4 linked regions of the Homo sapiens genome follow. The protein of the gene in region 1 interacts with the protein of each later gene in a biochemical or structural test. Each region holds a gene or a part of one and is shown in the gene's direction. Other genes may lie near its edges.

The links.
Region 2: the proteins of ARL8B (region 1) and RUFY1 form a complex in vitro, tested with the Homo sapiens proteins (one study listed by BioGRID).
Region 3: the proteins of ARL8B (region 1) and RUFY3 form a complex in vitro, tested with the Homo sapiens proteins (one study listed by BioGRID).
Region 4: the proteins of ARL8B (region 1) and VPS41 form a complex in vitro, tested with the Homo sapiens proteins (one study listed by BioGRID).

Annotation. Positions count from the first base shown.
Region 1 is NC_000003.12:5,166,979-5,174,291, forward strand, and holds part of ARL8B (ADP-ribosylation factor-like protein 8B), read left to right. Parts: intron 1-3,524; coding exon 3,525-3,605; intron 3,606-5,171; coding exon 5,172-5,245; intron 5,246-5,668; coding exon 5,669-5,762; intron 5,763-7,038; coding exon 7,039-7,106; intron 7,107-7,313. UniProt on the Homo sapiens protein: Small GTPase which cycles between active GTP-bound and inactive GDP-bound states.
Region 2 is NC_000005.10:179,553,508-179,560,820, forward strand, and holds part of RUFY1 (RUN and FYVE domain-containing protein 1), read left to right. Parts: intron 1-2,146; exon of another isoform or gene 2,147-2,283; intron 2,284-6,223; exon of another isoform or gene 6,224-6,517; coding exon 6,518-6,691; intron 6,692-7,313. UniProt on the Homo sapiens protein: Activating adapter involved in cargo sorting from early/recycling endosomes. Regulates retrieval of proteins from endosomes to the trans-Golgi network through interaction with the dynein-dynactin complex.
Region 3 is NC_000004.12:70,724,682-70,731,994, forward strand, and holds part of RUFY3 (protein RUFY3), read left to right. Parts: intron 1-7,313. UniProt on the Homo sapiens protein: ARL8 effector that promotes the coupling of endolysosomes to dynein-dynactin for retrograde transport along microtubules. Acts by binding both GTP-bound ARL8 and dynein-dynactin.
Region 4 is NC_000007.14:38,905,898-38,913,901, reverse strand, and holds the start of VPS41 (vacuolar protein sorting-associated protein 41 homolog), read left to right. Parts: upstream 1-4,710; 5' UTR 4,711-4,727; coding exon 4,728-4,748; intron 4,749-8,004. UniProt on the Homo sapiens protein: Plays a role in vesicle-mediated protein trafficking to lysosomal compartments including the endocytic membrane transport and autophagic pathways. Acts as a component of the HOPS endosomal tethering complex.

The DNA of each region.
Region 1 (7,313 bases):
TGGAAGTGACTGGAGATACTCTTCCAATTTCCTTTTTCTAGATAAGGAAGCTGAATCCCAAGGTCACATGACTTGCATCTAGTTAGTAAGTAGCATAATTGTTAATAAGATTCCCTGACTTTGAGAATAATCTTCTTTTCACCATCTTATTTTGCTTCAGATTTATTTTGTTCAACCAAGTTCCAGGTACACTGCCTTGCAACTTTGGCTTATAGGAGGGTAAGCATTATGACAGTGACAGCTCCATCTGCCATCACAGAATCACAGCGAGTGCCACGTGTGATCATGGCATTTAAGAAGGCAGGCATGAAAGCATACAGTAGTCCCTCTTATCCATGGTTTTGCTTTCCAGTTTCAGTTACCTATGATCAACCTCTGAAATAATAATGACTCTAAAGCAGAAGAGTACTGTGCCTAATTTATAAATTAAGCTTTATCATAGGTATGTATGTATTGGGAAAAACATAGTGTACATAGGGTTAGGTTCTATCTGTGATGTCAGGCATCCACTGGGGTTCTTGGAACGTATCCCCCAAGGATAAGGAGGGACTACTTACTTTTATTTTTCTACTCTTTCCCCCCCAAGTCAGATTAACTCATAATTATCCAGATCTTAAGAACAATGTGACTTTAGGCAAGTGACTTAAGCTGACTTTGCCTTGTTTTTCTCATCTGAGAAATGAAGATAATGCTACTCATTTCATTGGGTTGTTATAAGGATTAAACTATGCTGATGAATGTTAAGTGCTTAGTATTACGTGTTTGTTAAATTTGTTAAAATAAGTAGAATGATATACTACTAAGTAGTATTTTCTAAACATCTGTTTCCCAAACCTGTAGTCTTAATTAAGCAGCTTCTTGACAGCTCAGACATAAATTCTCAGGTATCTAGTGCCCAGTTGCCAACTGAGTGGTTATAGTTGTTCAACACAAGCTTTGAAAAGTGATGATTAAGATTGGACACTAGGAAAGAAGTAGAAAATACTTCCAGGTCCATAAAGTAATTATTGCACAAAATTCATGCATCAAAGTTAAGCACTTTATTGGCAGAAGAGTTCCAGCATTTTCCTCCTTCATGGCCTATGTTTTTTTTGAGACATGCTCTCACTCTATTGTCTAGGCTGGAGTACAGTGGCACAATCTTGTCTTAAAGTCATATCGTTCTTAAGATCTCAACCTCCACCTCCCAGGCTCAAGCAATCCTCCCACCTCAGCCTCCCTAGTAGCTGGGACTACAGGTGCATATAACCATGCCTGGCTAATTTTTGTATTTGTAGAGAGAAGGTTTTGCCGTGTCACCCAGGCTAGTCTTGAACTCCTGGGCCGCAGCAACCTGCCTGTCTCAGCCTCCCAAAGTGCTGGAATTACAAGCTTGAGCCACTATGCCTGGCCCTAATAACTCTTAGTTTGTTCAACAAATATTTATTGAATATCTTGCTCTACTCAAGAATTTTGGAGTAAAAACTCAAGGACTTGATTAGCTAATTTTCGGTTTTTGCATGTTAGCAGTAGCAGCTGAGTTACAGGAAAGTTGTTAGGGTTGGCCAAGGTAAAGAAAAGAGATAAATGAACCCCTGAGAAAGCTCGGGGGTACCCCAGTATACTGCAGCCCCCTACATTATTTTATTATGAAGTGCTGTAGTTGATGTTCATAATCATAAAACTTTACCTCCAATAGGGAGGGCCCTTGAGTGTTATCTAATTTAGTTTTCTTGTTTTGCAATAGATAAACTGACCCAGAAACATTGAGAACACATTAAATCATGTTCTATAGGTTGTTTGTGGGAAGTTAGCCAAGTGTATATTGCCTTTTAGAAAGCTTTCCATGCAAGCTAGTTGTAAAGTTTGGTACCTAAAAATTTTAGCTACTATTTTTCCTGCCTCTTCATTATGTAAAACACTTAATGATATGAAATAAATGAGCATTATCTCACGTAGATCTCTCCTCAGAGATTAAAGCCTATCACAATAAATATAATTACAATGAAAATATTTAAGAAAAATATAATCACGATTTAGCCATGTGACCTTGGGACTCTACTACCTGTTCTATGAAATGATAATGATAATTGTCCCTCCCTGTATGATGACTAGTTTTTTAAAAATTTTGGTAAAATACATAAAACACAAAGTATCATCTTAGTCATTTTTAAGTGTGCAATTCAGTAGTGTTAAGTACATTCACATTGTGTAACCATCACCACTGTCCACTTCTAGAAATTTGTTATCTTTTCAAACTGAAACTCCATACCCATTAAGCAAATTAATATCTTCTGTCTTTATGAATTTGACTATTTTAGGTACCTCATAAAGTGAAATACAGTGTTTGTGTGTGTGTGTGTGTGTGTGTGTGTGTGTGTGTGTGAGTGTGTGAGACTTCTGGCTCATTTCATTTAGCAAAATGTCTTCATTTCTTTTGAGTGTATATTCAGAAGTTGAATTGCTGGATCATATGATAATTCTATTTTTAGGTTTTTCAGGAACTGCTATACCATTTTTCATAGCAGCTATACCATTTTGCCTTCCTGCCAGCAGTATACAAGAGTTCCTATTTCTCTGCATTCTTTCCAGTGCTTTCTGTTTTTTTTCTTTTCCTCTTAATAGTAGCCATCCTACTGGATGTTAGGTGGTATCTCTTTGTGGGTTTGATTTGCATTTCCCTAATGATTAGTGAGTCGAACGTCTTTTCATGAGTTCATTGGCCATTTATCTTTTATCATGGCTTACTTTTGATATAACTAGTTTAGATAGAATGACTAGATTTTCACATATAATCACATATGTGAAAGTCCTGAGAATTATAATGTCTTATATAAGTGAAAGTAGTGACTATGGCTGTGTTAACATTTTTTCTGAAGTTAATAAAACTCCACTGAACAGTTAAAAGAGGCACAATTCGAGTTCTGTATAGGAAGTTATTTGTACAGTTGGAATTCGTTGTGCTCAAGATTTAAGACAATTTTGGAATACATGTGTATGTGGCTAGCATAAGGCCATAGCAGACAATACTCATGACATTGAGATAAGTAACCAAAAAGAGAACAAAATTGATTACATAAAAGGAAAAACTTCTGTATGACAAAATATTTTATAAGCCTTATTAAAAGACAGACTTGGAAATGCTGTTTAGCAGTGAATTTTAATAGTTACTGTCAGAATAATTTAAATGCTGAAAGTTTTATTTCTGATCTCATCTACTTTGTGGAAATGTACATCTAGGTGAACACATTTAAAAATTTTCGTATGTATTTGTCATATAAAATTCTTTTAGCATAAGGAAATATGTAAAAAATTACATTAGTTTCAAAAATATCTTTTTTAGATGGAAGAATATATCTTTGTTGGGACAAAATAATGCATCTCTTCAAGAATTATGGCCATAAGGAACATGTTCTTAAAGTAGATTGTTACCAATGGTAAAAAAATATTTACTAAAATGGTTACAAATGCAATGTTGATATTAGAAGTTTATGCAGTGTCATTATAAGTGAGTAGCCTAACTTCAAATGTTTTATTTTGTTCAGTCAGGTCAATTCAGTGAAGATATGATACCCACAGTGGGCTTCAACATGAGGAAGGTAACTAAAGGTAACGTCACAATAAAGGTAAGTTATTTCTTGCCGTACGCAATTTAAATTGTTAGCACAGACCCCTAGAAATTTTTCTGTTAAATTTCTGTGTTTTTACTGAAAATTTGCAGTTTTTCAGTAATGAATGTGCATGTTTCAAAAGAATAGGTTTTTTTGTTGTTGTTTTTTTGTTTTTTTTTTGGAAACAGAGTTTTGCTCTTTCACCCAGGCTGGAGTGCAGTGTCGCGATCTCCACTCACTGCAACCTCTACCTCCCGGTTCAAGTGATTCTCCTGCCTCAGCCTCCAAAATAGCTAAGATGACAGGCTTGTGCCACCACACCCAGCTAATTTTTTGTACTTTTAGTAGAGACAGGGTTTCACCATGTTGGTTAGGCTCGTCTCAACTCCTAACCTCAAATGATCTGCCTGCTACGGCCTCCCCAAAGTGCTGGGATTCCAGGCGTGAGCCACCACGCCTGGCCAAGAATAGATTTTTAATCTATTTTGTTTTTCAAAAATCAAATCTATGGCCTGAGCCTTAATGTCCATTTTGCCCAATTATTGTGGTTTACAGAAGCTGTTCACTTTCTCTGTGGCTCATCTAATGAAGTTCCAGATTTAGTCAAGTGCAGGTTTCTTTATGCTTGTTACCAGTGCTTTAGTTAAACCGGAAGCCTCTTGAAGATTAATACTGTGACTTGAGACTTTAATGTAGCCCAGTGTCTAGTGTGATGCCCTACGGAGTAGACACAATAATAAAATGATTATGGATGTGGCTTTCATGTGCATAAAATAATTTTATTTTATTTTATTTTTTTGAGATGGAGTTTCACTCTTGTTGCCCAGGCTTGGAGTGCAATGGTGTGATCTCGGCTCACTGCAACCTCCGACTCCCAGGTTCAAGTGGTTCTCCTGCCTCAGCCTCCCGAGTATATTACAGGCACCTGCCACCACACCTGGCTAATTTTTTGTATTTTTAGTAGAGATGAGGTTTCACTGTGTTGGCCAGGCTGGTCTCGAACTCCTGACCCCAAGTGATCCACCCGCCTCGGCCTCCCAAAGTGCTGGGATTATAGGTGTGAGCCACCATGCCTGACCAAAATAATTTTATACAAGAAAAACACCTATGTGGAAATGTTGGCTACTTATTTACAGGATAATTTCAAAAGGTTAGGCATTAATGTAGAACAAATCAGACGATTAAGACTTAATAGATTCTGAATTGTTGTTTTCTGTCTTGGCATTCAAATCTGGATGGTGCATGGTCCTGTAGCTTTTAAATTGTTATCATAAAGACATATGTTTTCAATAATAGAAGTATATTAGTTAACAGGCAAACTATTGCACATAAACCAAATCTTTGCTTAAGCAAAATTTTAGATGTATTGTAAATGTATTAAATACGGACTTCAAGTTTAGAAGTGGCCCCAAGAATTCCCATATTAAGAGCTTGTTTGAGGTCAAGTCTTTCAGGAGCACTTTGCCTCTAACATTGTAGAAATAAATATATCTTCCCGATCTTTCTTTTTTTCTGTTACTTCCTCTTGCAATCATTTAATTAAAATATCTTTATTAAGAATTGCCTTGTTTTGATTTAAAGATCTGGGACATAGGAGGACAACCCCGATTTCGAAGCATGTGGGAGCGGTATTGCAGAGGAGTCAATGCTATTGTGTAAGTGGTTTTTTTTTGTTTGTTTGCTTTTAAATCAATGTAGGCATCAAAGAAGAAAGTTTATTTTAGTATTTCCAGAGGCTCAATTTTTATCTCAGGCAGTGAAAATCTTTCTTAGCTAATATCCTAGTGTAATTCCCAACATGGGATTTAAAAAAAATTAATCATAGAATAAGATCTTTATGTTTTTTGTTTATGGAGCTAAGAGCTAAGGGGTGTACATGTTTTACTATCATGTATTAGTCTCTAAAAACAGTCTAGTTAAAAAGTATTAAAGGGTGCTGAGCCTTTTCTTATGACATAGTTTATTTTGGTTAATAATTTCAATAATGTAAATCTTACAAAAATTAAAAATCAATAATACTAGTTGTCATCATCAAGGCATACAGAGAAGGTATGTTGAGATCACTTCATTTTTTTAAGTTACATGATAGATGCTGCAGATCGTGAAAAGATAGAAGCTTCCCGAAATGAGCTACATAATCTTCTAGATAAACCACAGTTACAAGGAATTCCAGTAAGTATGGAATACTTGTTATTTTACATTGTAATTATATAATGATATTAATTATGGTAATTATGCAGTGATATTAATTATGTTTGAAATCAGTAACATGTCTTCATTTTTAAAATCTGGAAAACTTGCTTACCATGTATCTGCCATATACTGGGCATTGTGCTAAATATGAATCTCATAACCACGTATCTACTAAACTACTATGCAGCAGGAGCAGTGCGTAGGCCCAGGGATATAGTGATGAATGGAAATCAGTAGAAACATACTCCTTGCCATCATGGACCTTATGGTTTAGTGGGAAAGGTAGATACTCTGAAAACACTTGAATAATGCAGCTTTAAGTGCTAGGAAGAAAGGTGCAAGGGGATATGAGAGTTGTAATTTAGAGGGGAGATGTGATCTAGTTTGAGGGAAGAAGGAGGGATTCACGAGGAAGTAATGGTTGAGCTGAGATCCAAGGGATACATACAAATGTGAGGTATATGACAGTTGGAGGGGAAGAGAGTTCCAGGCAAAGGCCTTTGGGTGGGAGGAAGTGGGAAACTGAGAAGAGGCCAGTCTCTAGAATACATTTAGGAATTTGCATTTGGATTAGGAATGCTCAACCAGTAAGTATATAATGCAAATCCAAAAAATTTCCAAAATTCGAAACACTTCTGGTCCCAGGTATTTTGGATAAGGGATAGTAAACCTGTACTAAGAATAGCAGAATGCCGCCGGGCGCGGTGGCTCATGCCTGTAATCCCAGCACTTTGGGAGGCCGAGATGGGCGGATCACCAGGTCAGGAGATCGAGACCATCCTGGCTAACGCGGTGAAACCCCGTCTCTACTACAAAAAATCAGCTGGGCGTGGTGGTGGGCGCCTGTAGTCCCAGCTACGGCAGGAGAATGGCGTGAACCCGGGAGGCAGAGCTTGCAGTGAGCCCAGTGGCTGCTGCACTCCAGCCTGGGTGACAGAGCGAGACTCTGTCTCAAACAAACAAACAAACAAACAAACAAACAAAAAGAATAGCAGAATGTGTATCATAGACTCAGACTATTTTACATAGCAGTTGGCAGCCACATACTGAATTAAGAGCACCTGCATGGTGGGAGTTGAGTGAATACAAGTGTGAGCAATGAAATGAATGAGACAAGCCACCAGTTACACAAATAGGCCTTAACATTGTGGAATGTGTTAACATCTTAACTTTGTGTCTTCACATATCAAGATGATAAACTTCTGTGACTTTTTCTTGCATAAACGTGTGCTCTTAATATCTTTTCTTTTTAAAGGTGCTAGTGCTTGGAAACAAGAGAGATCTTCCTAATGCCTTGGATGAGAAACAGCTAATTGAAAAAATGTATGTCTTGAATATGCTATTTTAATAATTTGCTTCTAAATTACCATATTTTGCCCACTTGTTATGTTATTCCTAATGATCATAGCCATTTTTTTTAGGTAGATAAAAGTTGGCCTATCAGAGAAGTGAATCCTAACATTTTAGGATTGCTACGATGATTTCTTCAGTATAGTAATAAAACTAATGAGTAAAATTGAACAAAGTGAT
Region 2 (7,313 bases), on another chromosome or scaffold:
GCATGGTGGCTCACACCTGTAATCCCAGCATTTTGGGAGGCCGAGGCAGGCAGATCACCTGAGGTCAGGAGTTCGAGACCAACCTGGCCAACATGGTGAAACCCTATCTCTACTAAAAAAAAAAGTACAAAAATTAGCCGGGCTTGGTGGTACGCACCTGTAATCCCAGCTACTCAGGAGGCTGAGGCAGGAGAATTGCTTGAACATAAGAGGCGGAGTTTGCAGTGAGCCGAGACCATTCCACTGCAGTCCAGCCTGGGCAACAGAACGAGACTATCTCAAAAAATAATAATTAACTCAATTTAAGGAAAGTATTAATAACTACCACTCAATCTAGCAAAATGGTGACCATGGCTTACAAAGAGATGAAATTTGGGGAACTGCTGGGTAGAGCCATGAGGCTGGTCCCAAAGGTCACCGGGATTTGAAGCCATCAGGTAGGACAGGAGCAGAGGTGGGAAAGGAAATGGGCCAAGGGCGGCTCGCTCTGCAGCGACACAAGAAAAACAGGATGGGAGAAAGACAGTGACACCACTTCAGCCAGGGCCAGGCCCAAGGCTGACTCATTCTCTTTCCCCACTGATCTGCCTACACAAGCAATGAGGACAGGCAGGACTTTCAGAGGGAGCAGTTTAGGAGCAGAGATTGAATGTGAGCAGCACTCTTGCTGGATGATATTTTTTCAATGGTAGAAGCTAAAGGAAATGCTGCGGAATATTTTGAATACTTGTTTTAAAATGTTGTCCCGGTCGGGTGCAGTGGCTCATGCCTGTAATCCCAGCACTTTGGAAGACCGAGGTGGGTGAATCACCTGATGTTGGGAGTTTGAGACCAGCCTGACCAACATGGAGAAACCCCGTCTCTACTAAAAATACAAAATTAGCCAGGCATGGTGGCGTAGGCGTGTAATCCCAGCTATTCAGGAGGCTGAGGCAGGAGAATCTCTTGAACCTGGGGGGTGGAGGTTGCTGTGAGCCAAGATCGCCGCATTGCACTTCAGCTAGGGCAACAAGAGCAAAACTTTGTCTCAAAAAAAAAAAGAAAAGAAAAGTTTTCCCATGTGGGGTCTGGTATGTGATTGTATTGTCCATAGGTGTCCTGTTTGGTTTTGGGGGATTTTTTTTTAAGGTAATAAGCGAACATGATTTTTAAAAATCAAACCATACAAAAGAACATTCGGACAGGCATGGTGGCTCATGCCTGTAATCCCAGCACTTTGGGAGGCCGAGGCGGGCGGATCATTTGAGGTCAGGAGTTTGAGACCAGCCTGGCCAACATGGTGAAACCCCGTCTCCACTAAAAGTACAAAAATTAGATGGGCGTGGTGGCGCACGCCTGTAATCCCAGCTGCTCGGGAGGCTGAGGCAGGAAAATTGCTTGAAACCAGGAGGCAGAAGTTGCAGTGAGCCAAGATCACGCCACTGCACTCCAGCCTGGGTGACGAGCAAAATTCTGTCTCAAAAAAAAAAAAGGACAAATACTAAATCCTCCTTCCCAGAAATTTTCCCCAGTACTATTGTATCTTTGAGAGTTTCCGCACATAGCACATGTGCTTTCCTCTCTCAACACTGGCTGTTTTCACGCAAGCAATAGGATGTACCCACAAGGAATGTATCTTGCTTTTTAGAGTAATGCTTCCTAAAGGATGAGTAACAAACATGCGTGTTTTAAGAATTAACATGCTGGCGGGGTGCAGGTGGCTCATGCCTGTAATCCCAGTACTTTGAAAGGCCAACGAGAGAGGATTGCTTGAGCCCAGGAGTCTGATACTGGCCTGGCAATTTATTTGGCAATTCAGTAGGTGTAGAACTTCACGATATTCTCTGTGTCATGTTGAACTATTATTAATGAAGCTTAGAGATGTGAATAGTTTGGCCAAGGTCACAAAGCCAGTAAAATTGAGAGATAGAACCGCTAAAAGATCGTTCCAGGTTTAATTTTCCATGCCTCTAACTTGAGTGCTAATGGGTACAGGTAACCCCATAGTAGGGGATGCATGAGATGGCAAAACACTGCCAGCAGCACTTCCAGAGACAGCACCACCCAGCGCTGATTGCCTGGAACACTGGTCTTAACATTTTTTGCTCATGTAACCCCCTAAGAAAACTCCCAACTTTTTTTTTTTTTTTTTTTTTTTTTGAGCCGGCGTTTTGCTCGTCACCCAGGCTGGAGTGCAATGGCGTGATCTCGGGTCACGGCAACCTCCGCCTCCCAGGTTCAAGCGATTCTCCTGCCTCAGCCTCCCAAGCAGCTGGGATTACAAGCATGCACCACCACGCCCAGGTAATTTTTTGGATTTTTTTTTTTTTTTAATTGATCATTCTTGGGTGTTTCTCAATTTTTTGGATTTTTAGTAGAGACAGGGTTTCACCATGTTGGCCAGGCTGGTCTCAAACTCCTGACCTCAAGTGACCTGCTCACCTCAAGTGATCTGCCCACCTCGGCCTCCCAAAGTGCTGGGATTACAGGCATGAGACACTGCTCCCAGCCGAAAACTTAACTTTTAAAGTTAACGTATAAGATTATTCATCATATTTTAAAGTTGCTCAGAATTCATTTTCTGGCATAGTGTAAATATTGACTTTTTAAAATAAAACTGTTACATTGTTTTTTGAAATGTATCAAGTGGTATGTAAATACCTTAATGAATTGATAATTACCACCATCCATCTTTAAAATAGCAAGTTATTTAATATTTGAAAATTTTACATTTTCCCTTTTATTCATTGAACTTGGATTTCCATTCCACTTCTGCCATAGAATTAATGTAATAGATTTGTATGTTTTTAAAAGTGTTATTGGTCATCTTATAAGTCTCAGCAAAAAGTATGTAAATAAGTTAAAGTTTAATAAATTTTTATTGTGACTGAAGCTCTAAGTGTATAAAAATTTTTCTTCTGGAGTGAATTATCATTAAGTTTATTAGTAATGCTACATTGGTAACAGGAACATAAATATAATTTTTATAAAGAATTATACATAAATTTTTCTTGAATTGCGTTTTTTTTTTTTGAGAAGGGTCTCACTCTGTTGCCCAGCCTGGAATGCAGTGGCGCAATCTCGGCTCACTGCAACCTCCGCCTCCCGAGTTCAAGTGATCCTCCCACCTCAGCCTCCCCAGTAGCTGGGACTACAGGTGCACGCCAGCACGCCCAGCTAAGTTTTGTATTTTTAGTAGAGACGGGTTTTACCATGTTGGCCAGGCTGATCTCGAACTCCTGACCTCAGGTGATCTGCCTGCCTCAGCCTCCCAAAGTGCTGGGATTACAGGCGTGAGCCACCACGCCCAGCCAATGAATTGCATCTCTAAATGAGATGAATGGTGTTGGTTTTTGTCATTAGCATATATCTGTAGATGAATATATATGATTTACTGCTAAAGCGTGATAGAATTCAGCATCAGTTTTAGTCCTGTTTTTTGTTTGTTTGTTTTAGTAATGTTGGTCATCTTTGAACTCTTTCCAAGTTATATGCCCCAAATCACACTGATCTAAAGCCAAAAATTATTTTTTGTTCCCTTATTTTCATTCAAAGCAAATAATTGAAAATTACCTGACCTGCAACCTAATCATATTAAGAAAATTTCTCAACTGTTGGGAGTTACCAAAACAAAAGTTTTACCAAGACTTATCAAGTGTGAGCCAGGCACGGTGGCTCATGCCTGTAATCCCAGCACTTTGAGAGGCTGAGGCAGGTGGATGGCCTGAGGTCAGGAGTTCGAGACCAGCCTGGCCAACATAGTAAAACCCCGTCTCTACTAAAAATACAAAAAATTACCTGGGCATGGTGGCGGGCACCTGTAATCCCAGCTACTGGGGAGGCTGAGGCAGGAGAATCTCTTGAACCCAGGAGGCGGAGGTTGCAGTGAGCCAAGATCGTGCCATTGCACTCCAGCCTGGACAACAAGAGCAAAACTCCATCTCAAAAGAAAAAAAGACTTATCAAGGGATAATTTCACTTCTTATTCTTTCACTTAGGCACTTTGTTTAACCCAGAATACTCAGAATGGTTGGAGACATCTGAGTATTGCTTATTTCATTCACCTTTGCCAATACAGTACTTTTTGACAAAAATACTTTTAGTTTATCATGTATTTCAAATCCATTTTCATCAAATACTTAGCTGCAGTTTGGGCTCATTTAATTTACGGAAAATGGCCATCAAGCTAATGGCACATCTTAGGGTTGTGAATATTGACTGGTTGAACATAATTACATAGATTTGTAGGGAGAAAAATTTAATTTTCTAAATTTAGGACACCCAAGCAGAGGGTTAGAGACCACCCCTCTGCCCCAAGACCAAGCTTAACTGAATACCATAAAGCAGTAAAAGGCTGGTCTTCATGTTTTTGATTACTTAATCATCAAGGGCGACACCACCTCCATTTGGTGTATGGAACCTAGGGCACCCCAGGTCACCGTATCAAGAGGAAGACAGGTTATGGAGTGAGTTGCCCTTCTTTAGAGGGAGGAGAAAGAGTGCCTGTGAAACTTGAAAATCTGGAAATTGAGTTCCTTAAAACATCTGGGCATACCTAGCTTTGGCAAGACTGCTGTATATGTATTCCAATTTCAAGACCACTAGATGATAGAACTGGGCTTGGTGTCTTCTTTAAAGATAAATCTTTACAAATTGCTTTTATGGTTATTGCTGTCTTCAGAGTTTCTCCCTTCTCTTGATGAAGTTTTACAAGTTTTATTTCCTTTGCCAATCATCCATTACAGTTTTAAAATTTATAAATATAATACATAGGCTTCTCTCGAAATATAAAAATAATTATACTGGCCAGACATGGTGGCTCACGCCTGTAATCCTAGCACTTTGGGATGCCAAGGCGGGCGGATCACCTGAGGTTGGAAGTTCGAGACCAGCCTGACCAAAATGGAGAAACCCCGTCTCTACTAAAAATACAAAATTAGCCAGGCGTGGTGGCGCATGCCTGTAATCCCAGCTACTCGGGAGTCTGAAACAAGAGAATTGCTTGAGCTCAGGAGGCGAAGGTTGCAGTGAGCCGAGATGGCGCCATTGCACTCCAGCTTGGGCAACAAGAGTGAAACAACATCTCAAAAAAAAAAAAAAATTATACCACCCCCAACGAAATGCTTTACTTAAGCCACTTTTAACCCTCTCCACAACCAAGGTGAAATGCTTAGGCTGTTTCTTCTTGCCCAGCAGCTCTCCCCCTACCTTCTTGGGTTTTGCTGAGATAATTTTGAATTTTTAGTCCCAGGATGTCTCAGTATTTATTTAAGACCTTTACTACAAGTTCACGGCCATAATATTATCGTTCAGATTTAACTGTAATTAACTATATAAAAATATAGTACGTATAAATATGCTCTTTAATTGTCCATATTAATCAATGCTGGTGAAATAAAACAGGTAAAGGATTAGTATCCAAAATATACAGGTCAGTAAGACAAAGGCAAGCAATTCAACACGAAAGTCAATTGAGCAAGCAATTCACAGAAGAAATACTAGCAGAGAATAAACAGAAGTTATTTAACCTCAGTAGTAATTGGACAGCTGCAAACCAAAAACAATACGATCCCCCGCCCCCATTCCAATTGGCAAATATTTCCAAGACAATGTAAACGCGCGCGCGCGCCCGGGTGAGGGCCGCGCTTCGCACCTGGGACTTTCCTGCCAGGACTCTTACTTTGGGATCTAAACTTTTAGTTTCTAGGATACCAGCTTACTGGGTTTCAGAGAGCATTTGGCCAGCACGTATAGATATCTGATGATAATTGCACACAGTCTTTATTACACCCTCAAGGCAATGCGACAAGATAATGGGAGTTGAAATGGAACTCTCTGAATTCATTTGACTCCAACGGTTTTCCTTACCAAAAAACAAAGTGTGCGTAAAACCTAAAATTGTCCACTAGTAGCGGACGAAAGATCGGCAACAAGAATTTGAGCCTGGAGCTGAGGGGAAGATGCTTCCCTGCAGGCACCCGGCTGGCACTATCCGGCAAGAGAGAAGGCTGGAAAAGCCTTCTGGGCGGGGTGCGCATCCTCCTCCGTCCGGGACAGAGGGTGCAAAATGGCGCCCACCAGCTCCGTAGGAGAGGCCTTGAGCTGGACTCGCCCAATAGGAATGTTTGGGGGCGGGACGCTTTCCCAGCACGCCCTCTAAGAGCTTGGGGCAGGGCTTCCTGTAGGTAGCGCCCTTCCATTGGTCAAAAATGGAACCGGGGTTGCGGGAGAAGCCAAACGCGGCGAGTCTTGCTAAAGCCGTCGCCGTAGCAACGCGCGGAGCCGTCTGGGAGAGGCCTCTGGAGCAGGAGGCCCAGTGGCTCTTCTGACCCAAGGCCCCGCCGTCCAGGTAGGGGGCTGTGGCCTCTAGGGATCAGGGACTACTTACCTGCGAATCCCGGTTGCCCGCCCGCCAGCACGTCCGTTCCCTAAGCAGACCGCCTGGCCTCCTGCCTGACCCGTCTTCTCACCGTTGCCCGGAGTCTGACCTCCCCACGCTCAGTCCACTAACGAAGCTATCCCTGCTCCTGCCCCACAGCTTCTAAGTGCCAGATGATGGAGGAGCGTGCCAACCTGATGCACATGATGAAACTCAGCATCAAGGTGTTGCTCCAGTCGGCTCTGAGCCTGGGCCGCAGCCTGGATGCGGACCATGCCCCCTTGCAGCAGTTCTTTGTAGTGATGGAGCACTGCCTCAAACATGGGCTGAAAGGTGAGCCTGAGGGGGCGTTTGGGAGCGTGGAAGTTCGGGCTGGGTGTTTGCTCAGCATTTTTTCATCAGCGCCAGACATCCTTCTAGATGCTGAAATGCCAGCAGTGTACAGAACAGGCAAGGTTCCTGTATTCAGAAGCGACGTCCTAGAGCAGCGCTGGCCAATAGAAATAGCATGCAAGCTATATAGGCAATTTTAAAGTTTCTGGTAGCCAGGTTACTTTAAAAGCGTTAGATGAGGCTGGGCGCGGTGGCTCACGCCTGTAATCCCAGCACTTTGGGAGGCCAAGGCGGGCGGATCACGAGGTCAGGATATCGAGACCATCCTGGCTAACACGGTGAAACCCGGTCTCTACTAAAAAAAAAAAATACAAAAAATTAGCTGGGCGTGGTAGCGGGCGCCTGTAGTCCCAGCTACTCGGGAGGCTGAGGCAGGAGAATGGCGTGATCCCGGGAGGCGGAGGTTGCAGTGAGCTGAGATCGCGCCACTGCACTCCAGCTTGGGCAACAGAGCAAGACTCCGTCTCAAAAAAAAAAAAAAAAAAGAAAAAAGAAAAAAAAGTGTTAGATGAGATGCCTTTCTGTGGGGATAAAACTTTTAAAAATTAAGAAAAAAAAGTTA
Region 3 (7,313 bases), on another chromosome or scaffold:
TTTAGAATTTTGCCTTAAATTGGGCAAGAAAGCTATTATTTTAAATTACTAGAAATGAAAATAAAGAAAGCATAGTCCCATGAAAGCCTGTGAGTATTACTGCCTTGCTCCATTACCAAACTCTGGATATTTAAACAGTCATTTGGTCCCAAGAAATACCCACTTTTATGTTAATACCACTGATAGTTATTAGATTTAATTTAGCTATAAGCATTTAAGTGGTGGTCACCAGGCCCATGATTATGTGAATCTCACCTTGTTCACAAAATGGAACTCCTGATGTCTGGACGCGGGAGTATTCAGACTGCTTTCCGGGCTGATTCACAGAGGGAAAAACATCTGACCACCCAAATCCTAGAGTGAAGTCTCCTCACTCCCACAAAAGAAAATAGGCAAACAGCATAATGTTCCCTCTTAAAATGATGTAGACTGACTGTGTGTACTCAGCAATAGAGGCTCTGTGGCTTCCATATTTTATTTTCTTAAAACCAGAGTTCCTGGCCCTTCACTGAGCAGTCCGCAGTATAGGCCTGGACCTAGAGTTTCTGCCTACTTTAACCCTTAAATAAATGAAAATAAAAGCATTCACTTCATTATCTCAATGCTTATTGGTGGTCAATGAGGGATTATCTCTCTTTTGTCTTATATACTCTTTTTTTTTTTTTTGAGACAGAGTTTTGTTCTTATTGCCCAGGCTGGAGTGCAATGGCGCAATCTTGGCTCACTGAAAACTCTGCCTACCGGGTTCAAGCGATTCTCCTGCCTCAGCCTCCCAAATAGCTGGGATTACAGGCATGCGCCACCACACCCAGCTAATTTTTGTATTTTTAGTAGAGACGGGGTTTTTGCATGTTGATCAGGCTGGTCTCGAACTCCCAACCTCAGGTGATACACCCTCCTTGACCTCCCAAAGTGCTGGGATTACAGGTGTGAGCCACCATGCCCGGCTTATATACTCTTATTTTCAAAAGCCAACAGCAAATCTACAACAAGTTTAATTGCAAATAGATTTCCCCTAAAGGCAAGAGCCTGTGATTGACTCCACAGGAGAAGGGTCAGGAGAGGCTTCATTAAGTGAGACCTTAAGAGATAAACAGGTGATCACCAGACCGACATAGGGAGGGCATTTCAAACAGTACACAGTGAGCTGGCCCAGCCAGGGAATAGCAACAGGAGCACAGAGGGCTTCTGTTTGGCACAACAGGGAGCAAGACTGGAAAGATAAGCAGGGGCTTGACTGTAGAAATCTTATTCATACTGAAAAGCCTGCACTTGATTCTGTAGTGAAAAGCTACTGGTGCTTTATGTCTGGGAGTAACATAAAATAAGATTTGTGTTTGGAATGATCACTCTGGCAACAGTGTAGTGAATGGATCAGAAGGATATAAGCTCTCAGGGACCCCTAACTATAACTTTTAAAATGGTCTGGGTAAGAGATGACAATCTCACATTAAGGTAGCAAGAGTGAACACCAAAGGAACAATCCCTGGAAAAGCAGAATGTACCCGATGACTGAGGGGCTGGGTGGCTGGAGAATGAACATAAGGCAGTGCCTGGGATGACTCTCCAACTTCTGGCTGCAGAAGCTAGGTTCCCTTTACCAGTAGGGAATATAGAAGGAAGAGAACATTTGAGTTGTTGATGCTTAATAGATTGTGACTAACAAAAGCACTACCATCACTCTTTTTTTTCTTTTTTTTGAGACAGTTTCGCTCTTATTGCCCAGGCTGGAGTGCAATGGCGCTATCTCAGTTCACTGCAACCTCCACCTCCCAGGTTCAAGCAATTCTCCTTAACTCAGACTCTCCAGACTCCCCAAGTAGCTGGGATTACAGGCATGCGCCACCACGCCCAGCTAATTTTGTATTTTTAGCAGAGACAGGGTTTCTCCATGTTGGTCAGGCTGGTCTCGAACTCCCGACCTCAGGTGATCGCCCGCCTCAGCTTCCCAGAGTGCTGGGATTACAGGCGTGAGCCACCGTGCCCCGCCCATTACTCTTTCAGTTGAGCCTTCTACCCGCCCCACAGAAGCATTAATCAGATTTATACTTTTCCAGATTACATATCCTGGCTTAAGTCTGTACCCTAATTTACATTAAGAGTTGGAATCCTCACATGGAAAGGCGGGGGTGAAGATAAAAGGAGTGAGACTTAAATGGACATTCAGAGATGTGAGAATGTGGCTTACTTTCTTACTTTGCTTGTGCCATGTCAGTGCTAGAGGAGCAGCCTTGTTTATAGAAAATTCATTTTGCATTTTCTTAATTTAGGGAAACATGTACCACCATTGAAATAACCTCTCAGACTTTTGTTTGTTTGTTTGTTTTACTTTGTGAAAGCGTAGTGGGATTTCTTTCCTTTTTTTTTTTTTTTTTTTTAACCGAAGCAATGTTGGAAGTAAGTGGAATTTCAAAGTAAAGGAACTTTTAAAGCACCATGAAAATTTTAGAGAACATGTGTTCTCTGTTTTTTTCAAGAATGGAAGCAGAACGCTTCAGTTAGACCTTTAAGCATCATTATATTAATTTCAGAAATGGTGTTATTACTGAGATGAAGTGGTATATTTTATTTTTGCGATTTTTTTTAAGTCACATGCTCATATGTATCTGAATTTCTTGGAGTAACATTCTCAAAACAAGTTACATATAATTCTAGGATCAGGAAAGTAATAACTTTTTTTTTTTTTTTTTTTGAGACAGAGTCTCACTCTGTTGCCCAGGCTGGAGTGCAGTGGCGAGTTCCCAGCTCGCTGAAACCTCTGCCTCCCAGGTTCAAGCGACTCTCCTGCCTCAGCCTCCCTAGTAACTGGGATTACAGGCAGACGCCACCACGCCTGGGTAATTTTTGTATTTTTAGTAGAGACGGGGTTTCACCATGTTGGCCAGGCTGGTCTTGAACTCCTGACCTCAGGCGATCCACCCACCTTGCCCTCCCAAAGTGCTGGGATTACAAAAAATTAGCTGGGCGTGGTGGCGGGTGCCTGTAATCCCAGCTACTCGGGAGGCTGAGGCAGGAGAATCGCTTGAACCCAGGAGGCAGGGGTTGCGGTGAGCCGAGATCGTGCCACTGCACTCCAGCCTGGGCAACAAGAGAGAAACTCTGTCTCAAAAAAAAAAAAAAAGATTTTTTTAAAGAAATTCACCAATACATGTTATGTATACGCATGTCCACATACGTGAAGGGCAGGGATAGTATTACCTTCAGTATTATTGAGTGTTTAACAACAAAACCAACTATAGCTATGACTCAGTTTATAACACGTTTACCCTTAATAAGTTTACCTAATTAGAAATGTATATGTTAATAAAAATTTTTACACTTTAAAGAGGATTTTTAAAGAATGAAATCCTGACTCATTTGTTGTCTCAAGTGACTACAGATACCCCTTGAATTAAGATGGGGTTATGTCCTGAGAAACTCATCCTAAGTTGAAAATACCATAAAATGAAAATTCACTTAACACACCTACTCTACTGAACTTAATAGCTTAAGTAGCTTAGCCTCTCTTGCCTTAAACATGCTTAGAAGACTTAAATTAGCCAACAGTTGCGCAAAATCATCTGGCAGCACAGTACCCTGTAGCGTATTGGTTGTTTACCCTGATCTGTGGCTGATCGTGTGGCTGACTAGGATGGTGTGGCTGACTGGGAGCTGCGGCTTGCTGCCGCTGCGCAGCATCGTGAGAGAGGATCACCTGGCGTATTGCTAGCTCGGGAAAAAATCAAAATTCAAAATTTGAAGTAGGGTTTCTACTGAACACATATCACTTTCTCATCGTTGTAAAGTTGAAATATCGGAAGTTGAACCCTCATAAGCCAGGGACTGTCTGTGAATTGAAATTAGCCTAAAAGACAGCAGTAGTATCATATTTCAAAAAAGAAAATGTTATTTTGCATATACTGCCTTTACTCTGTAAAGTGTTTCAGACAGATTTTTTTAAAATATAATTTGTGATCTAAGTCCAATTCCTTGTTCTTAAACTAAATGTCCAGCTTTTGGTCTATTTTCTTTTTTCTTCCACATTCCTACTCTCTGTTATCATTTTTCGGATATTTATATGGTTTGAGTGGCAGGCAAGTTAAAAATCGCAATTTAAAATAATTTTTGTGTGCTTTTCAAAGTGAAGCTAAGTTGGATTTTTTTAAATAAGACTTTTTTCCGATTACAAAAGGAAATTTGTTGTGGAGATTTGGATATTTCTTTTTTTTTTTTTTTAAATGAGGCCTTGAGATTTGGAAATTTCTAAGTAGAATTTTGACACAGAATTCAAAATGACTGAAGAAATCTGCTGGATACCTAATGAGTCTCTTTAGAGTTGGGTGGATAAATTAGTCAATGGAAAACTTTATTGCTGTCAATATGGGGTATATTTGAGAACAGTAAAGGAATTAGTACAATAATGGGGTTGATTTGGCAATTCGTGTTTTAGCTACTGTGATGGTCATTAATTTAGAGATAATATAGGATAGTGGTTAAAAGTATGGATTTTGTGGCTTGGACCTGGACCTGGATTCAGTTCCTTACCCAGTACTCAGTAGTCATGTGACGTTGCACAAGTGATCACTTCATGCTTGAGTTTTTTTGTTTTTTTTTGAGACAGAGTCTCACAGTGTCACCTGGACTGGAGTGCAATGGCACGATCTCAGCTCACTGCAACCTCCACCTCCTGAGTTCACACAATTCTCCTGCCTCAGCCTCCTGAGTAGCTGGGATTACAGGCGCATACCACCACACCCAGCTAATTTTTTGTATTTTTAGTAGAGACGAGGTTTCCCCATGTTGGCCAGGCTGGTCTCGAACTCCTGACCTCAAGTGATCTGCCCACCTCTGTCTCCCAAAGTGCTAGGATTATAGATGTGAGCCATCATGCTTGAGTTTTTCTCTCCTCTTAACTGGGAATATTAACGGTAACTACTTCAGAGGTTAGGAGGATTAAATGAGATACTTAATGTAAAGCACCCTATAAATGGTAGCTATTTATATTAGTAGTTATTCATGAAGCAGTAGCTGAAGCCACAGCAGTTTAAGCCGGATTCTTCAATACATTGCCATTTTATTTTATATTTCTATTTTTATATCTATCTTTATAGAGTAGTCTGAACAAGTTATTTATCAGACTAAAGATGAACATTAGTAGTAGCTTAAACTCAAGTTTTAGCATTGTCCTTTCTTGGACCTCTATAAATAAGAAAATAATTGATTAAAAATCCACAAGTTATCAGTTATCCAGGAATATGCATTTTTGTTTCTTTCGTTTTTTTTTTTTTTTTGAGATGGAGTCTCGCTCTTGTCACCCAGGCTGGAACACAGTGGCGCAATCTTGGTTCACTACAACCCCTGCCTCCCCAGTTCAAGCGATTCTCCTGCCTCAGCCTCCCAAATAGCTGGGATTACAGGCACCCACCACCATTTCTGGCTAATTTCTGTATTTTTAGTAGAGACAGGTTTTCACCATGTTGGCCAGGCTAGTCTTGAACTCCTTGAACCTGCCTCGGCCTCCCAAAGTGCTGGGATTACAAGCGTGAGCCACTGCACCCAGCCAAAATATGTGCTTTTCTATTAACCTTCTTTTAGGGATAAGGAGTCTGACATTGAGAGGTGATGCACAGATGATCAGTTGAATGCAATAAAATATACATCTGGCCTGATTAGTTACTTTCCGCTAGGAATTATTTACTCCAAGTGTTAAAAATGTATTCTCTCATTTAATTTTTACAACAACCTTTTGAGCCTAGGTACAACTATTACCCCCAATTTACAAATAAACTGACATTTGGCCAGGCGCGGTGGCTCACACTTGTAATCCCAGCACTTTGGGAGGCTGAGGCGGGTGGATCACCTGAGGTCAGGAGTTCAAGACTAGCCTGGCCAACATGGTGTACTAAAAATACAAAAAAAAAAAAAAAGATTAGCTGGGCGTGGTGGCAGGTGCCTGTAATCCCAACTACTTGGGAGACTGAGGCAGGAGAATCACTTGAACCTGGGAGACAGAGGTTGCAGTGAGCCGAGATTGCACCACCGCACTCACTCCAGCCTGGGCGACAAGAGTGAAACTCCATCTCAAAAATTAAAAAAAGTAAAATAAGCTGACATTCAAGGGTGTAATAACCGGTAGAGGCAGGATTCAAACTCAGACTACCAATGGTTCAACCCATACACAACACTCCTGTCCCAGAATTCTAGAGTGTAAGTCCAACAATAGGCCTGCGTGTAATAAGAGGAGTCTTCTTCCCAGTCTCTGATGACATATTTGCAGAAGTTTTATACACAATTGAACACAGCATTGGCAGCTTAAGTACAGTCAGCATGCAGATAAGGCCAAAAGCATCCCAGCTGGGACATGCTTGGTGATTGCCATCTTTTTTTTTTTTTTTTTGAGACGGAGTCTCGCTCTTGTCCAGGCTGGAGTGCAGCTGCGCGATTTCGGCTCACTGCAACCTCCGCCTCCTGGGTTCAAACAATTCTCCTGCCTTAGGCTCCTGAGTAGCTGGGATTACAGGTGCCCGCCACCATGCCCGGCTAATTTTTGTACTTTAGTAAAGAAGGGGTTTCATCATGTTGGCCTAGGCTTGTCTTGAACTCTTGACCTCAGGTGATCTGTCCACCTTGGCCTCCCAAAGTGCTGGGATTACAGGCGTGAGCCACCAAGCCTGGCCAGTGATTGCCATCTTTTAAAGTGGAGACTGAGTTTTTTGTCCACATGTTTTCTTTTTCCTCTTTTCACTCACTTTTATAAAGTAAATGAAAATATTTACATAATCGTGCATATACTACCAAACAGCAAAAATAGTACACTGCTGAAACTGACCTGGCTGGCAAGTGACACCTCTATATGCTAAATTTAGCTTTCTGAAGCAGATGTACAAAAGCAATAAGAAAAGCAGTTTTGTTTTGTTTTTGTTTTGAGACAGAGTTTCGTTCTGTTGCCCAGTCTGGAGTGCAGTGGCGCAGTCTCGGCTCACTGCAACCTCTGCCTCCCAGGTTCAAGTGATTCTCCTGCCTCAGCCTCCTGAGTAGCTGGGACTATAAATGTGCACCACCATGCCCGGCTAATTTTTGTATTTTTAGTGCAGACAGGGTTTTGCCATGTTGGCCAGGCTGGTCTTGAACTCTTGGGCTCAAGCGATCACCCGCCTCAGCCTCTGAAAGTACTGGGATTACAGGCATGAGCCACCGCACTTAGCCTGAAAAGCAGTTTGTGATAGCAGTAATGTTCACGATTATGGATTGTTTGAAATAGTAGCTACAGGTAATCATTATTCTTTTAGCCAAGCATTCTCATGCCCTTCTTTGGATGATTTTTTCAATGTTTT
Region 4 (8,004 bases), on another chromosome or scaffold:
TACAGTTAAAACAAAAATTAAAATATTAATACTATTTTCCCCAAGCTAAATTAATGAAATGTGTAAAAAATGATAATATCTAATGTTTGATGGTAGGAGGGTTTAGAGCTCTCATATATAGCTCACTGTAGAATAAATTGTGAGAGACTGAATATATAAAGGGGCACTGGCCAGACCAGATATTAAAATAGAACTCTGACCCACAGTCTGAAGCAAGCTGCAGCAATTGCCCAGGAAACCAAGCCATTGTCCACAATAGAAAACCCAGGAATCTAGCCTGACAGTCAAAACTGCCATCTCTAGTAACAATCCAGGAACCTTAACTATAACCTCTGAAACAATCAGCCTAAAATGACCAGGACTTTATTGGTAGTTGACAACTTCCTTAATTTTTACTCCCACTTCCAACTAAGAGCAACCAGAGAAAACCAAATATCCACCCCTACCAATCACATAGGTTGCCCCACTTCTGGTTACCCCACCTGCAGCTTTCTCATGCCAGCAGCCTCCAACCAGGGCCTACCTGAAGCCTTCCCTTTTCCTACCTTCCCACTCTTGTGCCTGTGTTTGAGTCTCTGCCACAGCGCAAGTGCTGGTGGCTGACTCCCTTTCTAGAGTAAGCTCTGAATAACTCCTCAATGGCATTTCTCATTTGGATGATCTTTATTCCTGCAGTTGATACCACCTTGCATTATAGCATTTTCCAGAATTATGCACAGGGATGTTAATTAGATGTACTTAAAGTATACAACAAAATAGAATGATTATATACATTACTTTTCATACGATGGAATTATAATGTGAAATCATGTTTTATTAAAATCATGTTTTAGAAGAATATTTTACAAGATTGTTATTGGGAAACAATCTTGAAATATGACTAAGTAAAAAAAAATGACAAAACTTGGTAATATGATCTTTGTTGGACAAGTTTTTAAATAAATACAGAGAGACAGAGAGGGGAAAGGAGGAAGAGAGAGAAAAAAGAGAAGAAAAAAGAAAGGCATATATCCAACAATCATAATCTAAGTGGAGAAATCATGAGTGGTTTTAGAATTTTATTTTATAATTTATTGTATTTTTCCAGTTATCTATTATGAACACATAGTACTTTTGTAATTAGAAAAATGTTATTAAGAAAATCTAATGTGGTTGCTCAGGGAAATTTCCAATAAGCTATATCTTAAAATGACATTTAGAATATTAGAAGGTAACAGGTTTCAGTAGGTACAGTTTTGGAAAAACTAAACTGCAAAATAAGCTGAGGCTGGCCAAATTTGCTAAAGATAACATCAATATTCTTTTAGCTATTTGGTACAGTTAATTAAATAAAGGCTAAGATTGTAGCTTGGAATTAGTAGTGTAATGTGGTGTAAATTTGCTTGTCATTAGCTGTCACACCTGTAGATTGAGAAAGGTAGCAATCTAAGAAGGAATGGAAGCTGAAGATTGGGAAAAGAATCTACAACACATCCCCTAATTAGCAAGGGCATAAGAGTGAATTATTTTAACTTTGTCCACTTTGCCGATTTTTCAAGTTTCCTGAATTTATAAATGCTATTTAATAATGGAAAATATTAAAGCCGTTCATATTGTTTAAGCAATGAAATAATGCTATTGTCACGAATAAAATGGCTATAATTTGAGTTAGTAAACTGTTTCAGACCTACGAAACAAACATATGAGACAGATCCTTGAAACCAGTGAGCCACTCTACAAATATAAGGTCTTAGGTCTGTTTTCTGAAGTCTATTAACAATTTTAGGTCCTATAGACTGAGAATGAGAAGTTGAATCTTACCTTTACCTCCATCTGCATTTTTGTTTTAGTTTTAGTTTTTGTTTTTGTTTTTGTTTTTTGAGACAGAGTCTTGCTCTGTCACCAGGCTGTAGTGTAGTAGTGTGATCTTGGCTCACTGCAACCTCCGCCTCCCGAGTTCAAGCGATTCTCCTGCCTCAGCCTCCCGAGTAGCTGGGATTACAGGCGCACACCACCACGCCTGGCTAATTTTTGTATTTTTAGTAGAGACGGGGTTTCACTATGTTGACCAGGATGGTCTCGATCTCTTGACCTCAGGGGATCCGCCCGCCTTGGCCTCCCAAAGTGCTGGGATTACAGGCGTGAGTCACTGCGCCCAGCCCTTTACCTCCGTATCTTGAAGTTGGGAGAGGGTGGACTGAGCAGGTGATTTGACACAGAATCAGTGACTGTTAGGCTGACTACTCCTCAAACTTGAAAGTATATGCATATGACTGAGGGATACTATTAAAATCCAGATTGTGGTTAAATACATCTCTCAAAGGGCCCCAAATTCTTCATTTTTAACAAGCTCCCAGGTAGTCTTTGGACTACACTTAGAGTAGTTGGAGAATACAAGACCACCTAGATAAGAGAGCCTCAAACTCTCACTTCACATGAGCAAATGGGATTTGGAGGTCACATGTGAATTTCATCCTGTCCACTGTCCCAGCACGAACCTGCTAGTTCATAGTAGGTTTCTTCCTCTAATTCACCTTTCCATACCTGTGTCTCTTCACTTTTCCAGTCTCTCCAAAAGGAAAGAGGCTCATAATACTTTATTGTAATCAAGAGAGTATACTGAATGCGGAACAAACTTGGGGAATTGAGAGTTTCTACGGTTAAATGAGCAGAGGAAAACCTATAAAGTCTGGCTATATCTTTAATAAGACCCATAACACCCTTCTTGAGAAAGAGAATAAACATTCTCATTCCAGAAAAGTAGAAAGGCCAGGAAGGCCCAGAGTGGATGGCCTTCAGCTTTGCTTGCTTGGGCTGCTTGACTTCTCACCAAAATAAAATGGAACCATAAAACAAAAATGACCTTGTGGTTAAGACAGTGGTAATAATCCCTTATTTTCCTTCTTCATCCCAATCTCATCCATTCAGCATAGAAGAGGAGATTGCCCAGTTGGAGAGGCTGTAGTCCTAGAGGTTTATGGGTGGCTGTCACTCATAACAGAAAAGAGAAAATTGGAGTTTGTGAGGAAAGTCAGAAAAGTGGAAGAGCTCATTTTATTTCTCTTTCCCGTGGATACTCGACTGAGGGCTTCCACAGTCTCTTTGGTCTGTATTAAAGTTTTTCTGGGATCTGGAGTTCATCATGAGCAATGTTTGGCCCTGGGCTGCTTTGCAAGAGATTTTAGAAACTCTTGGGTTAGGTTTATACTTGCCCTAGGTTTATACTTAGGGCATTGGGTGCTTGCTTATGGATTTCTTTTTTCTTTTTTCTTTTTTTTCAGATAGGGTCTCACTCTGTTGCCCAGGCTGGAGTGCAGTGGCACCATCAATGCTCACTGCAGCCTTAACCCCCACCTCAGCCTCCTGAGTAGCTGGAACTACAGGCGCACACCATTATGCCCGGCTAATTTTTGGTATTTTTTGTAGAGACAGGGTTTTGCCATGTTGTCCAGGATGGTCTCAAACTCTTGAGCTCATGAAATCTGACTGCCTTGGCCTCCCAAAGTGCTGGGATTACAGGTGAAAGCCACTGCACCTGGCTGCTTATAGACATTTAAATGCCTCAGGGTGGTCTATCCTGTCGGCTGAGTGATTAGCCCACTGGAAGAGGAACCCCAGCAAGGCTTGGAGGAAGAAGATGGAGGTAAGGCTGTTTAGGCCCTGGGGAGAAGACAGGTGTCTCAGAGATGATGTCACCTTGGCTTCTGGGCCATTGAGGAATCATGGGTTGAGCAAGCTACAGACAGAGTACTGAGTCCATGACTTCCTACTGGGTCAGAGTCAATGAGGCACAGGGAGTCAAAAAAGGTACTGAGGCAATCACCACATGCTGCCATTTGCAATGCCCTCTGCTGGTCACCAGCTACTCCAGTGAATGGAAATTGTAAAATGTCTGTCTTTGGACAAGGTGCTGCAGATTCCTGAGGGTTAAGAAACAGAATTCATAATGTTCAGAAACATGGAGAAGGAATCAGTCATTCTGAAGGCTGGAAGTAATACAGTGGTTGTGCAGATTTTGACCAAGGACAACTTCATATTGTGTCTTCACTTGAACATTTACCTATTGAATATCCTCAACAAAAGTTTAACAATTAATTTATTAAACAACAGAGATTTTTTTTAAATCAATGTTCATATGACAGGAGAAGACAAAGTAGCAAGCAAAAATAATGATATTATTTGTTGGCGTATAAATTTTCTCTGACTCTCCACTGCAAAGACTGCTTTATATTCACTGAATATACTTAAAAAAGAGAGAGAAAAAAGGACAAGAACACTTTTAGAGTAAGCAGCATTTGGCAATCACAGAGACTTTGGCATCAGGCAGGGCTGAATTCTATTACTAGTTCTGCCTCTTACTAGCTGCATGACCTCTGAGCTACGGTATTCTCCCCTATAAATGGGGATGATAGTAGGAATTGCTGTGAGGATTAAATGAGATAATTTATGCAAAGCTATAAACCCAGGGCATGACATAGTAAGTGCTTAATAAACACTAGAATAACTAGAGAAACAAGAACAACAATAAAATAAGCTATAGTATTAGCAATGGTTATGTTCACATCCTTCAAAGCAGAATTCCATTGAGTTTGGAGAATTGGCAGCAGAAATGAACCCTAGCAGGTCCGTCCCCTAGAAGAGATTTCCAGGCTCAGATGAAGCTAAAACTACATTTCCCAGAAGGCCCTGGGCCAAGTGTGTGGTTTCCTCTTATTTCCGGGTCTGTCAGGTGACTCTCCCGTGGCGCCATGGCGGAAGCAGAGGAGCAGGTAAAGGGTGCAGGTGGTAGTTGAGGGCACAGGGATATAGAGACTAGGGTGGGCTGTTTGGGGAGGGTGGAGTGGAGTGGGTGGAGGTGCGGAGCTGCTGGAATAGCGCAAGGCAGGTCCGCGGCAGGGCGGGGTGGGATGGCGAAAGTTGGTTTCGGGGAGCAGAGAGGATGCCAGCCCCGGGAGGGCACCTAGGGAAAGCGCTCTGACACACCCCCGCGTTCGGGCTGCCTTTCCTCGGGCCCCATCCCTGTGGCCTTTGCCCAGGGAAATTTTGGCATGAAGGCAGGCCCGGCTACCTCAGGGACTGACTGCCTGTGGGAGGAGGAAGAGAGGCCGGGTGACTGAAATTTAAGTTGCTTTCCACTTGAAGTAGGACAATAAGAACTAGGAGAGAGTAGACGATGAGTTTTGTTTTGTATCTATTGGAGTTAGGTACAGAGCTGGAGCACTGTTGCGGTGCAGCAGGGATTAAATGCATCCGTTCTGGAGCAAAAATGCCTGGGGTCCAAGTGCTGGTTCCTTTTCTTACCCAATGTGCTACTTTGAGCTACTTATTTAACTTTCCAGTGTGAGATGGGGGTAATAATAAGGCCGTCCTCAGAGGGTGGTTTAAGATGGAGAGAGGAGTTTATACACAAAGTTAGAGTACTTAGAACTGTTGGGCTTAGTAAAAATTAAATGGGATTATTTGTTGCTGGTAGTATCCAGTCAACAACTGGCAACGTGGCACTGAAGTTTAGGGTAGAAATTGGTGATGGGAATATGAATTATTTTCATATAGCAGTAGTGGTAATCACACATTTTATGAAATGACGAAGTAAAATAAAAAAGACAAAAAAGAGAAGCAGACCAAAAAAGAGGCTAGAACTTGGGGGAGATAACTTAAGTTTCCATTTCCAGTGTTATTTCAGTTGGATACTGTTTTTCTTCACAAGTTAACAGGGCTGTCAGTTGCAGTCATTGTCTCTAAACAGTGACTTGATGATGGGCTGTTTAGTATCATAAGAGTCATTTACCTAGTTCAATAATTTTTACTATTTTCAACATACTTCATTTGTTTTTACTTCATAGTGAAAATTTGTTCTGTATATATTTTATATATGCCAATAATTGAGACGTTTGACTAGGTAGAAATTTGGTTTGGCTGGTCCTTGTGATAACAAGATAACAAAGTCTCTTATCTAACACTAGAGACTCCTATTTCCATTCTAGCAGTTCAAAGGAAAACACTCATTAAGAACATATCATTTCATGACTGCCATTGCTCCTTTGAATAAGGGTGAGATTGTTTTTCACATTGTGCATCTTTATTTCATGTTGAAATGTTTGTTTTATGGTTTGATTTGAAAGCAAAAAACTGAGTTTCATATGTTCTTAGATATAGTGGAATAGAAATGGAGAGAGTTGCTCCTAGAAAAACCATTGTTTTTTCTTCCATTGAAAAAAACCTATGAAATATTTACCACTGTTTAGTGCAGAAGAAGAATTTAACAAAGTTGTCTGATATAAAAATGACACATACAAAATTAGGGATATAATAATGTTTCACATTTGTACATTATTTTCTAGTTTTAAAAACCCTTCCATATTGCATTTGGTCTTCCCAAAAGAATTCTATGAGGTAAATGTTTACTCTCATACATGGGTGAAACACCTCTGATATTCTAGACTTTCCAGGGGCTTCTAATCTTATTCAGAGGAAAAGCCACAGCCATTACGGTAGCCTGGTTGTCCCACAGGACCTTGACCCAGCTGCCCTTAGCCACCTTTTCTTGACCTCATTTTTCCCACTACTCTCCTTCCCTTCTGTGACTCTGCATCAGCTGTACTGGCTCTCTTAGTCTTCAAAAAGCCAGGCAGGTTCCTATCTCAGGGCCTCTTTGCTCATGCTGTTCCTTTTTGAGGAACCCTGATATTTACAGGCTTCCTCATTTCCTTCATGTCTTTGTCCAAGTGTTCTTTTTCATTGCGACCTTCCCTGACCATGCTTTGAAACCTTCCTGCATTATTTTTCCCTATAATGTGCATCACCGTTTGACATACTGTATTATAAAATTTGTTTTTTTTTTTTTCCCTGTATATTTCTGTGTACCTCTTACCACAGAGCTTGGAACATCCTGACAAGGATTTGTTCACTGCTGTATGTCCAATACCTAGAATATTGCTTGTTACTTAATAAATTTGTGTTAAATGATTGACTTTTACTGATAAACAAATTGAAATTCAGGCAACTTGAGTAACGTGCTCAGGCTTATATCTATAATATAATAAATCTCCAGTCCTCTGTCTCCATAGCTCATGACTTTTCACTAGAATACCCTACCTTTTTAAAATATATGTAAGAACCTAAATCTAAATAGTTTTTTTACTTTATGAAGTAGAATTAGCCCTTTCCATTTTAATGATTTTCCCTCAAGCCACCATTCCACTTTGATGCTTTAACAGCCAATATGTAGTTGGAGTGGGCATTCTCCTCTCCAGTGGTGTCAGTATCTTAAAAAGACTAGTCGTGGACCAGGCACAATGGCCCATACCTGTAATCCCAGCACTTTGGGAGGCCAAGGTGGGGCGATTGTTTGAGCCCAGGAGTTCGAGACGAGCCTGGGCAACATAGCAAAACCCTATCTCTACAAAAATTACAAAAATTAGCCAGGCATGGTGGTGTGTAGTCCCAGCTACTCGGGAGGCTGAGGTGGGAGGATTGCTTGAGTCAAGAGGGTCGGGGCAGCAGTGAGCCATGATCGTGCCACTGCACTTCAGTCTGGGCAACAGAGCAAGACCCTGTTTAAAAAAAAAACGAAAAACAAACAAAAAAAAACCCAGCAGTCTGTTGTAAATGGCTGAAAGACACATTCACAAATTGTTCAGTTCTTTTTTTTAAAAGAAAGTAAGTAATTGTACCTAATCTTATCCTTTATAGATTAAAAATGGTTAGGCTTTTCTCTGATTTGTTTTTGCATTTCACAGTAGGAAGCCATTGAAATCTGATGACGGTAGTAGGGCTTTATTATACCATTTTTTTAAAGCTAAAAGTGTATAAAAATGGAGAAAATAGGGCTGCGTGCGGTGGCTCATGCCTGTAATCCCAGCACTTCGGGAGGCTGAGGCGGGTGGATCACCTGAGGTCAGGAGTTCGAGACCAGACGGGCCAACATGGTGAAACCCCGTCACTACTAAAAATACAAAAAAATTAGTCAGGCATGGTGGTGGGCGCCTGTAATCCCAGCTACTCGGGAGGCTGAGGCAGGAGAAT